Linked DNA regions of Homo sapiens. The protein of the gene in region 1 interacts with the protein of each later gene in a pairwise test. Each region holds a gene or a part of one and is shown in the gene's direction. Other genes may lie near its edges.

What was found. The genes of interacting proteins can lie anywhere in the genome.
Region 2: the proteins of MAGOHB (region 1) and ZNF835 interact in binary tests that used the Homo sapiens proteins (3 or more experiments, as listed by UniProt).
Region 3: the proteins of MAGOHB (region 1) and ZBTB10 interact in binary tests that used the Homo sapiens proteins (3 or more experiments, as listed by UniProt).
Region 4: the proteins of MAGOHB (region 1) and KRT75 interact in binary tests that used the Homo sapiens proteins (3 or more experiments, as listed by UniProt).

Annotation. Positions count from the first base shown.
Region 1 is NC_000012.12:10,607,152-10,610,609, reverse strand, and holds part of MAGOHB (protein mago nashi homolog 2), read left to right. Parts: intron 1-668; coding exon 669-779; intron 780-1,226; exon of another isoform or gene 1,227-1,512; intron 1,513-2,673; coding exon 2,674-2,756; intron 2,757-3,458. UniProt on the Homo sapiens protein: Required for pre-mRNA splicing as component of the spliceosome. Plays a redundant role with MAGOH in the exon junction complex and in the nonsense-mediated decay (NMD) pathway.
Region 2 is NC_000019.10:56,661,758-56,665,257, reverse strand, and holds the end of ZNF835 (zinc finger protein 835), read left to right. Parts: intron 1-12; 5' UTR 13-59; coding exon 60-1,673; 3' UTR 1,674-3,278; downstream 3,279-3,500. UniProt on the Homo sapiens protein: May be involved in transcriptional regulation.
Region 3 is NC_000008.11:80,520,726-80,524,225, forward strand, and holds part of ZBTB10 (zinc finger and BTB domain-containing protein 10), read left to right. Parts: 3' UTR 1-3,500. UniProt on the Homo sapiens protein: May be involved in transcriptional regulation.
Region 4 is NC_000012.12:52,431,572-52,435,795, reverse strand, and holds the start of KRT75 (keratin, type II cytoskeletal 75), read left to right. Parts: upstream 1-1,424; 5' UTR 1,425-1,491; coding exon 1,492-1,989; intron 1,990-2,543; coding exon 2,544-2,758; intron 2,759-3,729; coding exon 3,730-3,790; intron 3,791-4,157; coding exon 4,158-4,224.

The DNA of each region.
Region 1 (3,458 bases):
TGAATGTCTTTTTTTTTTTTTTTTTTTTTTTTGCATTTAGCCCATTTTCTTCAAGTCTGTGTTGAATTTAAAAAAGTACATCTAAGGCTATATTGTAAAGAAGAAGGCAATTTATAGATTGAAAGAGTTTCCATTTAAATTAGATACAGTGTTTGCATCCATAGGAATGAGAAAGTTCAGAGAACTAACCTTGACGTGAACTACACTTGCATTTATTGATTTATTGATTTAGGGACAGAGTCTCGCTCTGTTACCCAAGCTGGAGTGCAGTGGCTTGATCTCAGCTCACTGCAACCTCTGCCTCCCAGGCTCAAGCGATTCTCCTGCCTCAGTATACTTGCATTTATTACAGTTCACCTTATAGATCTTGTGATGACACAAGTTAACCACTTGTGGGTATTTGGATCTCAGTGTTGCAAAGGCAGAATACAGTGTTTGAAAGACAGGTAATGATGAGAAGAGGGAAAAAATGTATGTGAAAGGAAAGGGCAAGAGATGAAGAAAAGCAGTGTAACAAGGATAAGTGATTCTGTCTCCTCTACTTTTGGAATCAATTAAATTTTTCTATATTCCTCTATTTGGATATTCAGGGTTTGTAACTCATTTCTTTCTGAGTTGAGGGGTGACATAGGTGGGCATTATCTCATTTTATTATGATTAATTTTTAGGCTTATGTGCACAAGAGTGTAATGGAAGAACTGAAGAGAATTATTGATGACAGTGAAATTACAAAAGAAGATGATGCTTTGTGGCCTCCCCCTGATAGGGTTGGCCGACAGGTTTGTATTTAGTGATTCTTTAAGTGTATAAATATTAAAAATTGATAATACTATTTTGTTTCCCGTTATTTATTTGGAATGAGTCTAAGTTGATTCTTTGGCTTTCTATTTAATAGGCACCTGGTAAATTCTCTTTAATTTTATCTCTTAGTTCTGTTTTTCTGTGCTACCTCCTAGTAGTGAAGGAGTCAGTGCATAGCTCTAAATTTAGACATCTTTCTCTGTAGTCACCCCAGCCAACGTTAGGATGTTTTCACAATGCAGTGTTATGAATAATTTCTGTTGTGTGTTAATCACTTTTATTAAGAATATGACTATGTAAAATTTATTTTTGCCAAATCATAACTTCTAAAATTCTTACTTGCATCCCTATACCCCAGAGAGAAACTTGATTGGTGGTTTCTTTGTTAAAACTGATGATTGCATTTCCCTCTCATATTCCTTCAGAATAAATGATGTTTCTCAGGCTTCTGAAGAACTCTGAAGGCCTAATTTCACTCTGTAAAAAGAAAGTTTGGTTTCTGAATTGGGTCTTTTCAACTCTTGGAGAAATTCCTTCAACAACCCCTGGAAGGAAGAAACATTTAATTTCACTTTTGTATATCCCTGAGGATTGTACTTTGTATCACCTTCTTTGAATAGAAGAAAATGTGGAGAAATCTAACACATGCTGACACTCTGTAGGAGTAACTTAAGTCTTCTGCTTAAAGAAGCATTATTTAGAAAAGCAAAGGTAATAGTTAACAGTATTTATTTTAAGCATCGTATCACTTTTAAAAAGTAAATTTAGGCCTCAGTTTGTTTTATGCAGATACACATATGTACTAAAAAGCAAACCACAGCAGCTAACCTTTTATATCATTTAGACTCAGGGAGAGCCTAGTATTTTATCTATTCACTTAAGGATGTGTTCATGGGTTTTGGTTAGTGGGGAGGAGTAGGCATGCTTCAGAAATTGCCTTTTGTATCAAGTCAAAGGTTTTATGGCTGTTAGAGCATCTTAGCTAATTCTCCATTCTGTGTGTGTCATAAACTGCATAATTAGGCCTCTGATTAAATAAATAGCTAGGATTGTCTTCAATAGTGTCTGTTAACTTGAAGATTCATTACAGATATAGCTTTTTAATTATTGGTTTTAGGCCTGCAGATAAACAATATAGGGAAAAATCTATACAGTAATTACAGCACACTAGGAACATCTACATTAGGTTGGTTTTTTTTTTTTTTTTTTACTAGTTCTTAATTTTAGTTATTTTGTGGAGTATTAGTTTTGAAGTCTTACCATCTTGGGATCAAATATAAGTACCATCATTATTAGTGGTTATAAATATCAACAAGTATTTTCTTCTGCTCTATGAGTTTTGGATTACACATTTGTAAAATAGGTTAGTAAGGTTATTTTCAAGATTACAGAGAGTACAAAGTCCCTACCACTAGGGCCTGACATACAGTAGGTGCTAAAGTGGTGGTGGTTATTAATATTACACATTTTATTTGTAGAATCTTCCAGAAAGAAAAAATGTGTATTTATCATATTAAAAATGGTCTTATACTCCAATCATTTTTACAACATGTGCTTCAAAGTGATGTCTTTAGTTTTTACTGACATTGTAAGAAATATTTCTTTGTCATTTTGTTTCATAGTGTCTTCTTTATGTCTCTGGAAAGCAATTCTTTGTTGGTCCTAAACTTGGGGGTAGTGCGCGTGAGCAGTCTTTATTTTAAGGATATAGTTTATATCTAAGAAACCATGTTTCTTTCCCCCTCGCCCCCCACTCCCTCTGTTGGCTGCTAGAAAACTTGCAACTAAAATTGGGATCTGCTTGTAGCAAGAATACAGATACCTCTGGGATAGATTTTTATATTAACTACATTTTTCTGCTATATTTTTTAGGAGCTTGAAATTGTAATTGGAGATGAGCACATATCTTTTACCACATCAAAAATAGGTTCTCTTATTGATGTAAATCAGTCAAAGTAAGTATGTTAAAGCATTTTGGCGAAGTTTTCATTATTACAGAGGCTCATTTTAGAACTATAGTCAGTTTGCTAGCCAAGATAATTTCAGTGGCATCCTATCAGTTTATTATGCAGATGTAATCCTGATTTTTATGTCATTAAAGGCTTATTATCTTGTCTCTCAGTAGAAGTTAGCAGAGTATTTCATTGATTGTCCAAAAACTTTTAATCCAACAGCTGTATATAATAATGCCCAAGTTGTATTAGCTACTTTGTATAAAAATGTGGATACAGTATCAGCAAATCCAAAGGAAAGAAATCCTTATTGGATTATGTCAGCCTCATTAGGCCTATATCATCTCACTGTCCTTCTTGGGCTCAATACTTGGGAAAAAGATGGAAAAAATCCATTATGGCCTAAGTATGCTTTAGCTATCGATGTCTTCCCAAGATCTGTCTCTCCTCTGCCCCAGGGTTTTGTAGCACATCCCATTTTCTTGGTCTGATCCTAGCCACTTATTTTTATTTGTGCCCATTCCCCTCAAAGTGTCCCCATAGTGCTCTTACTTTTTTCTGTCACCCTGAATTGTAATAACCTATTTGTCTGCTTTACTGGTTTGAATGTAAGCTCCTTGAGAACCTTGCTGTATCCACAGAGTTAGCATAGTGCCCTGCACATAATAGATGCTTTCAATAAATATTTGTTAGTGGAAAGGAGAA
Region 2 (3,500 bases), on another chromosome or scaffold:
TTTTCTTTTCAGACCCAGAGAAAAGATGTGAGATCAAGACAGCAGCCCAGGGATCGAGGATGGAGGGACTCTTGAGCGTCGCCCTCCAGGGCGCAGAGTTGGAAGGAAACTGGAAACACGAGGGCCAGGTTGAGGACCTGCAGGAAAACCAGGAAAGCTGTCCAGAGCCAGAGGCCGTGGCCTGCAAGGGAGACCCTGCTGGGGACAGCATGCAGGAACGCGATGAATTCAGCCGAATCCCAAGAACCATATCGAGCCCTGCTGCTACCCAAGCCAGTGTCCCCGACGACAGCAGTTCCCGGAGGTGCAGCGCGCCTGGGGAGAGCCCGAAGGAGAGGCATCCTGACAGCCGCCAGCGGGAGAGAGGTGGAGGCCCCAAGAAGCCGTGGAAATGCGGGGACTGCGGGAAGGCCTTCAGCTACTGTTCAGCGTTCATCTTACACCAGAGAATCCACACCGGGGAGAAGCCATTTGCGTGCCCCGAGTGCGGCAAGGCCTTCAGCCAGAGCGTGCACCTGACCCTGCACCAGCGCACGCACACGGGCGAGAAGCCCTACGCCTGCCACGAGTGCGGCAAGGCCTTCAGCCAGGGCTCGTACCTGGCGTCCCACTGGCGCACGCACACGGGCGAGAAGCCGCACCGCTGCGCCGACTGCGGCAAGGCCTTCACGCGCGTCACGCACCTGACCCAGCACCGGCGCGTGCACACGGGCGAGCGGCCCTACGCGTGCGCCCAGTGCGCCAAGGCGTTCCGCAACCGCTCGTCCCTGATAGAGCACCAGCGCATCCACACCGGTGAGAAGCCCTACGAGTGCTCCGCGTGCGCCAAGGCCTTCCGCTTCTCCTCAGCGCTCATCCGCCACCAGCGCATCCACACGGAGGAGAAGCCCTACCGCTGCGGCCAGTGCGCCAAGGCCTTCGCGCAGATCGCGCACCTGACCCAGCACCGGCGCGTGCACACGGGCGAGAAGCCCTACACGTGCCAGGACTGCGGCGCGCTCTTCAGCCAGAGCGCCTCTCTGGCCGAGCACCGGCGCATCCACACAGGCGAGAAGCCCTACGCGTGCGGCCAGTGCGCCAAGGCCTTCACCCAGGTGTCGCACCTGACGCAGCACCAGCGCACGCACACCGGAGAGCGGCCTTACCCCTGCCACGACTGCGGCAAGCGCTTCAGCAACCGCTCCCACCTCCTCCAGCACCGCCTCGTGCACACCGGTGAGCGGCCCTACAGGTGCCTGCAATGCGGGGCCGCCTTCAGCCACGTGTCCTCGCTTATAGAGCACCAGAAGATCCACACCGGAGAGCGGCCCTACAAGTGCGGCGAGTGCGGCAAAGCTTTCAGCCAGGGCTCCTCGCTCGCCCTGCACCAGCGCACGCACACGGGCGAGCGGCCCTACACCTGCCCCGAGTGCGGCAAGGCCTTCAGCAACCGCTCCTACCTGATCCAGCACCACATCGTGCACACCGGGGAGAAGCCCTACGAGTGCAGCGGCTGCGGGAAGGCCTTCAGCTTCTCCTCCGCGCTCATCCGACACCAGAGGACGCATGCAGACAGTTCGGGACGCCTTTGCCCAGCTCCCACGCCTGACTCAACACCTGGGCTCTCACAGGGAGGAGAAACCTGTCAACAGGGGTGCCCTGGCAGAAACCCGCGTGGACCAGCAGAAGATTAAGAGCTGAGGGCCTCCTTTCCAACCTCACAATGCTATGGGGGAGATACTGTGTTATCCCCGACGCTTCCTGTGAGGAAACCGAGGCTCAGAGAAGCTTGTTAACTTGCCTGAGGGCACACAGTGGGGAAGACACAGGGCTAAGACTGTACCTCACATCTGCCAGACTCCCCTGCGGTCTTCCTGGTGCAAAATTATAAATGGGGCACGGGCAAGTAGACCTGCAGAAACACCTATGGCTGGCCTTTAATTTCTTTCTTTTTTTCTTTGAGACAGTGTCTCTCTCTGTCACCCAGGCTAGAGTGCAGTGGAGCGATCTCGGCTCACTGAAACTTCTGCCTCCCGGGTACAAGTGATTCTCCTGCCTCAACCTCCCGAGTAGTTAAAATTACAGGAGTCTGGCTAATTTTTTTTTTTTTTTTTTTCTGAGACGGAGTCTTGCTCTGTCGCCCAGGCTGGAGTGCAGTGATGCAATCTCGGCTCACTGCAACCTCCGCCTCCCGGGTTCAAGTGATTCCCCTACCTCAGCCTCCCGAGTAGCTGGGACTACAGGCGCCCGGCCACCACACCCGGACTAGTTTTTTTGTATTTTAGTAGAGGCGGGGTTTCACCATGTTGGCTAGGATGGTCTCGATCTCCTGACTTCGTTATCCACCCGCCTCGGCCTCCCAAAGTGCTGGGATTACAGGCATGAGCCACCGCGCCCAGCCTAATTTTTGTATTTTTAGTAGAGGCAGGGTTTCACCATGTTGGCCAGGCTGTCTCGAACTCCTAACATCAGGCGATCTGCCTGCCTTGGCATCCCAAAGTGCTGGGACTACAGGCCTGAGCTACGGTGCCTGGCCAGCTGGCCTTTTCATTGTTGATTTTATTGAGTAAGCCCTTGCTCAGTAAATTTAATTGAATTAAAGTGAATAAAAGGTTTGGTTTCTTTGGCCAAGTTGGCATATTTACTAAAGGAGCAGAGTCTGAAGAAGAAATCTGGATTCACTAAGATAGAAATAGTGCTTAGAGAAAATGAGCAGGAGAAATCTAGAGCTGAAAGTTATTCTAGAAGAAGGGAGTGCTTCTCCTCTACAAAAGATTTTTAGAGTGGGCCTAGTCTTTTTTTCAGTATGAGGAAACACCTACCCATCTCCACCATTTTTCCCCCTAACTCAAAGACCTGACTTTAATGCTTGTATCAGTCAGCTCTTGCTGTGTAACAAACCATCCAGCCCTCATTTATCCATTTACTATTTCTCATGCATCTGGAGGTCAGCTGCTGGTTCTGTTGGTCTGGACCAGGCTTGGTCTGGACCTGGACCAGGAGGGCTCAGCTGGGCCAATTTGATCTTCTTCTCCTGACTCACATCTCACCTGGGTGTGTTCTCAGGGAGGTGGCAGGAGTCTGAGAGGGAGTGGACACACAGGCATGCTTTCAAGTCTCTGATATTGTCACATTTGCATCTAGTCCCACAGGCCAAAGCAAGCCTCCTAGCCAAGCCTAGGATCAGCACAGGAAGAGCCTTCCTAAGCATGTGGTCCCAGGGAAGGGTGAAAAGTAGGAGTTATGAACGTAATCCACCTACTACAATGTTGAATTAAAGTTATAATCTCATAACTTCACATGACTATAATCATTGGAAAATTATTTTATGGGGGAATACACTCATGTAGTCCACAATTTATAAAGTTAAAAAAAAAAACTGTTCTTACTCCTGTGTCTCCCAGCTACCAAGTCCCCCTCACTAGAAGCAAATGCTTACTATATGTAAGCATATATATGAATATTTATATGCATAGAATATTCTGGAAAGATATATAGTACACCTTTCTTCACAAATGGTA
Region 3 (3,500 bases), on another chromosome or scaffold:
CCATGATTCAACAGTCTCAAAAATCTTACAAATAAAATTCTGAGAAGCTTTATTATTCTATAAATTCTTCAGGGTACAAAGGGTGACATATTGAGGTGAAATTGTCAGATTTACTTAGCCTGGTGACATGAATTAGCTGATTGTGGAACTCTCAGCAGCATTTCACGTATTGTTAACATGTATGGCATTTATTAGCATATTGTATATTATATAAGATTGAGGGATGTCATATTTTCAGCTTTCTTTTAAATAAAAATTGAGTATATTTTCCTATTTTATATCAGGTAACTAAATTATGCTAGTTATGTGGAAAAAATTGCAAAGATGCTTTGACAGATATAATCCCTTTGGTGCTCCATCTGATCAAAGTTGAAAAGTTGATGTTTTTTAAGAGACAAGCTTTATCATTGTCTCTGATTTCAGTAGAATAATGGTTTATTGTTAGACAATGATGTTTCTGCTTGGATAAATCAAAGATAAATTACAGTTACATGGTTAGATGCATCTTTTGTCATCTATATTGTAGTTTCTACATAACTGTAAACCTGACAGATAAGAATAGTTTCGGTTTGATTTTTGTTTAAAACAGATGAGTACTTCTTAATGTTCTAGACAAATGAGTAAAATGTATTTCTGGTAGAAATTAGTTGGGCAAAGATACTATGAATGAAAAAGTATTTTAAACGTAAAATGTTCTTTGTGAATATGTAAGTATAGTATAAAGATTTCTTTCATCCCATTTATCCCCTTCCTTTAAATAAACTAGTTTACAATTGGTAGATCTGTCTATATATAAATATATATTAAAGAACAAAGATATATATCTAAAAATCACCTAAATCTGCTTTATTAGACTACAGTTCACTTATTGCATAGAAACTGGACTTGGCTTTACATTCTTAATGTACTTTTACTTTTCCTCAAGATATGAACTTACTCTCTTGAAGCTGAATTTTCTTTTACTACTTAAATCATTTATGTATATCTGGTAAATTATGACCAAATTTTTGTTAGATTGCATACAGTAAATTGAAATACACACTTGGTACACTACGGGATTGTTGTGCTTTTGTTTGGTTTTAGTTGGAAATAAGGTTTGATGTAGATGGCTTGTTACTGTTAATTTAAAATATTCTATAATTGTCCATTACTTTATGTTGTGTTGTGACAGATTTGGCTATATTTTTAGTCAATTGAAATATGATACTTTAAAAGTTTGTTTTTAGGTAATCCAAAGGAAAAGTGTTTATACTCTTGAATATATTAGCCTCAGCCTATATAAAAATTTCTTTGAAGTAAACATTTTACCGGAAACAGAATTGACAGATTTTTCTACTTGCTGACTGCCTAACTTATTTTGTTTCATGATCTCGAGGGACTGCCTTTTCCCATCTAGATCTTTTAAAAAAATAGTTTTAGTACTAAGGTATACTACTGGACATTTCTATTTTTTTAAGTGTATTCTTTTTCTGACTTACAGTAAAATTTCAGGAAGTTGATAGATACTAAGAACTTATGATTGGTCTCAGAGGTAACAATGAAATACTCATAATTTTGTCTGTGGAACTCTGGCAGAATTATGTTACACATTTGGCGAAGTTGTCTCTTGTAATTTATATTTTAAATGAAAAAGTATTTTAGAGCTTTTAATGAAGGGGAAGAGTATAAACTTTCTTTCATATTCACTCTGTAGTTACAGACCGTCTCATAAATCAAGATTGTGCATTATTAGAGTTCTCAGAGACAGATACTTCCATATGGACCCCTGTTCATTTTTCTTATTTACTAGATATTTTGCTAAATTTAGCACACTAGCAATTAAGAGTTTAAAAAAGAAGAAACGTTATAGGAAAGGGAAACTGAACAGTAATGAGTAGCTTTGAAATTGGGGAAAACACACTAGCTGGGTTAGGTACAGCTATCCTAATGGAGAAGAGTGAGCTAAATGCGTTAATTCATGTAAAGTGCTTAGAACACTGGTACATAATAGGTGCATAACACATCTTAAAGTTGTTTAATAATAGATAAGAACCAAGAGGAAAAAGAAATAAGAAAAGATGGGGGAAAGGAAGGAGAAAATAGGAAATGAAAGGATTAGGACTTGGGCATTTATATTAATACAAAATGGTGTAAACGGCCTGAATATCACTGTAGTAGTATCATACGGGGGAAAGTGTGATGGAAAATAGGTTTAAAAATCTTAATTTTTAAAACTTTAGTAAGCTTTATTTATATTTTTTAGGATTTTCTGAACATAGCATGAAGGGTTTAGATTCATTTTTCTGAAAAACGATTAAAAAAACTACCAATTTTTTTTTTGAGTGCCCACACTTGCCGTTGTGCTGTATACATGATTTTACCTTAATCCTCTATAAGGTAGGTGCTAATTGTCTCCATTTTATAGATGAGGAAAGGCTCAGAGAAATTCAGAAACTTGGCTAATTTAACACAGCTGTGACAGAGCTCGAATTTGACCACGTCTGATTCTGAAGCCCATACTCTTTCAGGGAGGCTCTATTGCTGCCTCATTAAACAACTCTTGTAGAATTTCAGCTCTTAATGGAGTCTATGGATTATATTTTTCCTATAAGACAGCTGTGTTTAGAATTTTGAGTGTCTTTCCTCCCCCCAATAAATTTCCTTACTACTCTTTCTTCATAAAGCAGTTGTTTTGTCACTTTGACTATATTAAGACACATCAGTGTAGCACATGCTCTTAACTGGCTGTGGCATTTTAATTTTATAAAAGAATGGTTTTTATCTGAAGAACTAGATAGAAACCCCAGTTTTTGTGCCGTTCAGTCACCCAGATCCTTAAACTTAACTATGGTACATAATATCCACACTTAGAACTAACAGGTGTTTAGTCACTTTAGGACTTAAAATGGAAAGTTTTTTTTTTTTTCCTGCTGTATCTCTGCTTTCAACTGAAGTTAAAGAATTCTAGATAGTTTAAAATGTGTTAGGGATAAGCACACTTCAAAAGATGTTTTCTAGCCCTAAATTTTATGACATTGGGTACTTAAATTTGGAGTACACTAGCTATTGAGAACAATATTTTGGGTTGAGGAGAGATGGTTGAGGCCATTATTTAGTGGGAGCATTGGCATTTTGAACACTGTAAACAAAAGAACACTTCCGCCTGCTGTTTGTAAAAGCTCTTTGGGAAGATCTTTTACGAAGACCAACTTTTTAAAATGTAAATTACCTACCTAATATAAGTGTCCTAAGACATGTATGTAAACTTCCGGAACTGTTTTGTCTGTGTATTTAGAAAATACACAAGAATCTTTATTCAAACCTAAAAATATAAACTTGTGAGCACTAAACTGCTTCTGGCTTTGTGAATTTTATTGACTGACATTTAATTCAGATTTCTTTGCAAGTGTACTAATTTAGACTAATTGGGGTAAGGGGAACACCTTAATGAACTTTGACTTATGTATAATTCAGATATCTTTGTACTTAAGGCTTACAAGTTTGAATTATGGAATACTATA
Region 4 (4,224 bases), about 42 Mb from region 1:
CTGAGCCCAGGAGGTGGCGGTTGCAGTGAGCCGAGATTGAGCTGCTGCACTCCAGCCTGGGTGACAGAGTGAGACCCTGTCTCAAGGCAGAAAAAAAAAGAAGATTCAGCAATGTTTTGGTTTGACTCTTCCCATGGTAGAGATGGGGCAATGAGTTGCAGAACAGAGAGATGAGGTGCCTTGAAGTCTTCTTTGCGGTTTGTAGACTAATATAGAATGTAGGGCACAGTCTACAAGGTTAACAGGAGAAACAGGGAAGGAACGAATCCTCTGCTAGGTGCAGCTGTTGGAGCTCTTTTGATGAAGGACTGGAGAGCTAGGAATTCTTGGTCCTCAGGAGGAGGAGGAAACTGCCTGGGAGACTTCTGGGATAGGCAGCCTCAAATGCAGCTTGGAGGTGATGATTCATGGTACACCATCTTGTACAGTTTTATCTTCCCAACAGGACCATGAGCTTGTTGAAGATAAATAATGTGCATTGTGTTTCTTTTGAATTCCCACAGGACTAGTCACAGGATGGACATGGTTGGCACTTCCTTAATATTACTTGATTGTATCAGAAAGAGGGGAGCCTCAATAGACATTTACTCAGCACTTACATATACCGGGCATTGCGAAAGTTTTCACATGTGAATATTCATTACAAACCCCATTTTACAGACATGAAAGTTGAGGCACAGAAAAGTTTCATGGCTTGCTCAAGGTCCCACAACTATGAGCAGGTCTGAGATTCAAACCCGAGTCTTTCTCCTCTCACAACCTCTCTTCCCAGGAGACAGAGCACTGGCTGGCCTTGAGAGTCACATTATATTGCAGTGGGCAGGGCACAGGCACACATACACTCCAGAAAACCATGTGTGACCTACACAATAGACACGGAAGCTTAAGAGCAGAATAAAGGGGCAATCAAAATGGGGTGGATTCCTAAGGAAGATGATTACAGAGCGCGACCTTCAAGGTTTGGAAAGACAGCTTGATGGGGCTTGGGGAACCAGGCAGTAGGTGCTGAGAAAATGCTTAGGGAATAGGAAGCACCCCAAGGAAACAGTGAAGTGTAGTGGCTTGTATTAACACAAGATGTTTGGACAGGACGGAGTTGGTCCCAGGCCTAAGAAAGCGGTTTAGAAATGAGGCAGTGTTTGCTGAGTCCTTTACAAGATGCATCATTAGCACATGACGGAAAGCAATTAACTTGCTTCTTACTCATATGCTGATCAAGTTGCAACTGGAAAGGAGTTTGCACGTTGTGGGGAGGGGGTGCCAGGGAACCAGCCAGTGGCCCTTACACCATTTCCCGAGGGATGCCGAGTGTGAGCTCAGGGTTGGCGGATGCCCAGGGAATGCCATCAGAAGGCCCTCTCCACTAGCAGTGCCCCGCCCCCACAGGATGCTCATAAAAGCCACGAGACCAGGGCTCTCCAGCCACCTGTCTTCTCCACTGCCTGTACCAGCCCACCTCAGGTGCCTTCTCGCCGGCCTTCCTCACCCACCATGTCTCGGCAGTCCTCCATCACCTTCCAGTCTGGCAGCCGCAGGGGCTTCAGCACCACCTCGGCCATCACCCCGGCAGCTGGCCGCTCCCGCTTCAGCTCTGTCTCTGTGGCCCGCTCTGCAGCAGGGAGTGGGGGCCTGGGAAGGATCAGCAGTGCTGGGGCCAGCTTTGGAAGCCGCAGCCTCTACAACCTGGGGGGTGCCAAGCGGGTCTCCATCAATGGGTGTGGCAGCAGCTGCCGAAGTGGCTTTGGTGGCAGGGCCAGCAACAGGTTTGGAGTCAACAGTGGATTTGGCTATGGGGGTGGAGTTGGAGGAGGCTTCAGTGGCCCCAGCTTCCCCGTGTGTCCCCCTGGAGGCATCCAAGAGGTCACTGTCAACCAGAGTCTCCTGACTCCTCTTCACCTGCAAATCGACCCCACCATCCAGCGGGTGCGGGCCGAGGAGCGCGAGCAGATCAAGACCCTCAACAATAAGTTCGCCTCCTTCATCGACAAGGTAAGCAGGGGCTTCATCCACCCCCTTGGGTTTGGGATCAAATAAACTCTTGGAAGGGCCATCCCATGGGGGGAGAGCAATAATGCAATGACCCCACTGTGGGAATGAGCACTGTTCAGCACGGGCTCCCAGGGGCTGAGACCCTTCCAAGTCAGGCCAGCTTGCCCCACAGGACCTGGTAGAAATTTCCTCTCTTTCGGAGCCACATGGGCTGGTTCAGTCAACACCAAGGGAAGAGTTTTGTTGATTCTCTACAGGAGAGTTGCTGCTCAGCAAACTACCCTAACCCAGAGTAGGTGGTGTTGAGAAACTTAACCCAAGAGCAGCTCCCCAACAGAAGCCTCTAGGCCCCACCACCCGAATCCTATGCAAGCCCTAGGGAACTTTGCGGTAGCTCCATGGACTGCCTCCTTTTGGGTTGGAGTTGTCAGTTACATTATTGTCAATGGGTGCCAAGTGAAAAAAATATCTTTTTCTTCTCTCCCTTATTAATAGGAGTGTCTAACTCTGCCTCTCCAACTTCTCAAGGTTTCATTCTCTCTTCTTCCCTCCAGGTGAGGTTCTTGGAGCAGCAGAACAAGGTCCTGGAGACCAAGTGGGCCCTCCTGCAGGAGCAGGGCTCCAGGACTGTGAGGCAGAACCTAGAGCCCCTCTTTGATTCCTATACCAGTGAGCTCCGACGGCAGCTGGAAAGCATCACCACCGAGAGGGGCAGGCTTGAAGCTGAACTGAGGAACATGCAGGATGTTGTGGAAGATTTCAAAGTCAGGTAAGTGGGAGACTGGCTTCTGGCCACACACAGCCATCTGAAGGCTCCTTTGTGTGAGGACCAGAGAGGTGCAAAGGAGCAAATGCCGATATCAGCCGGGAGCTTTGGAACTGCAGCCTTTATCCTGCAAGGTGGAGACAGCACTGTGTGGGGTAGCACAAGGACCTTCATCTTGTGTATTGCTATGAAGATCCTATTCCTATTTGTTCACATGACTGCAAAGGGATATCAACATCATCCGACAAAATATTGCTACTCACTCTAGAAATCATAATGTAATTTCACAGTCAGCATATTGTTTAATTCCATTGGACATGGGCTCAATTATTGAGATGGTTTGCATTTCCAGGATGGCATTCACTGTAGAGTGAAGAGAGGTAACAAGGAAGAGTTTAAAGGAGGGCAATCTGACTTTTCTTGTGGGGGGAAACTTTTGACTGCACATCATCCAGGCTGCAGTAGGTGAGGTATCCAGTGGAAAGGGATTTGGTCCAGACTAACCCATTAGCCAGCTTGCCCTTATTTCTAAGCTTGAGCTACCCCTAGTTACAAAAAGCATATTTCTCAGGGGCCACCCTGAGGTTCAGTGAAAATATATCAAAATCTACCCGAAACAGCCTGCTGAACAGATAAAGTTTACTCCACGATTTCGGTAGACACTTGAGGTGGAAAAACATTTTAGATTAGCATTGCATATCTATCAAAAGATGGAGTTGCATAAGTATATTTTTGTATTCCTTTAAGTTCCATGCTCACCTTCTACTCTTAGAAAAGTTTATTAAAAACTAGCAGAAGAAATTATCCCCCTTTTATGGAGGGAGAAATAGAGGTTAAATGAATCACCCAAAGTCATGCCCAGGTCAGCAGAAGAGCTGGAAATGATTTGAGGGCTCTTAACTCTTGCTACACCAGCCTGGAAAGAGTTCAATGCAGACTTGCTCAACAGCACACCCCCCGCTCTGTCCTTATAGGTACGAAGATGAAATTAACAAGCGCACAGCTGCTGAGAATGAATTTGTAGCCCTGAAAAAGGTGAGTGGGGATGTTTCTCTCAAAGGAGAAGGTTTAAAATGGAATCTGGAGTGTGGGGTAACCTGACCTCTGACCCTTGGGCCACCCAAGAAATGTCACATCAACCTTGAGAATATCTGCAGAGTTCAAACCTCCCAACATGTTCCCTCTACGTTGATGGCCCCATTAGCCCTACTTGGGTTTCTGTGAGCTCAGGGAATTCAAGCCCCCAGTTCTCCGTAATTACCCATCCCCAACCCCAAATCACCCAGACCCAGAGTTTTCTAAAATCCAAACTAGATGGGCTGGGGAGAAATCTGCTCAGCTTCTTTTGGACTAGATACTTGGGGCTGCAGACTCAAAGGAGCATCCTGCGCTGTCATTCCAGGACGTAGATGCTGCCTATATGAACAAGGTGGAGCTGGAAGCCAAGGTCAAATCTCTGCCCGAGGAGA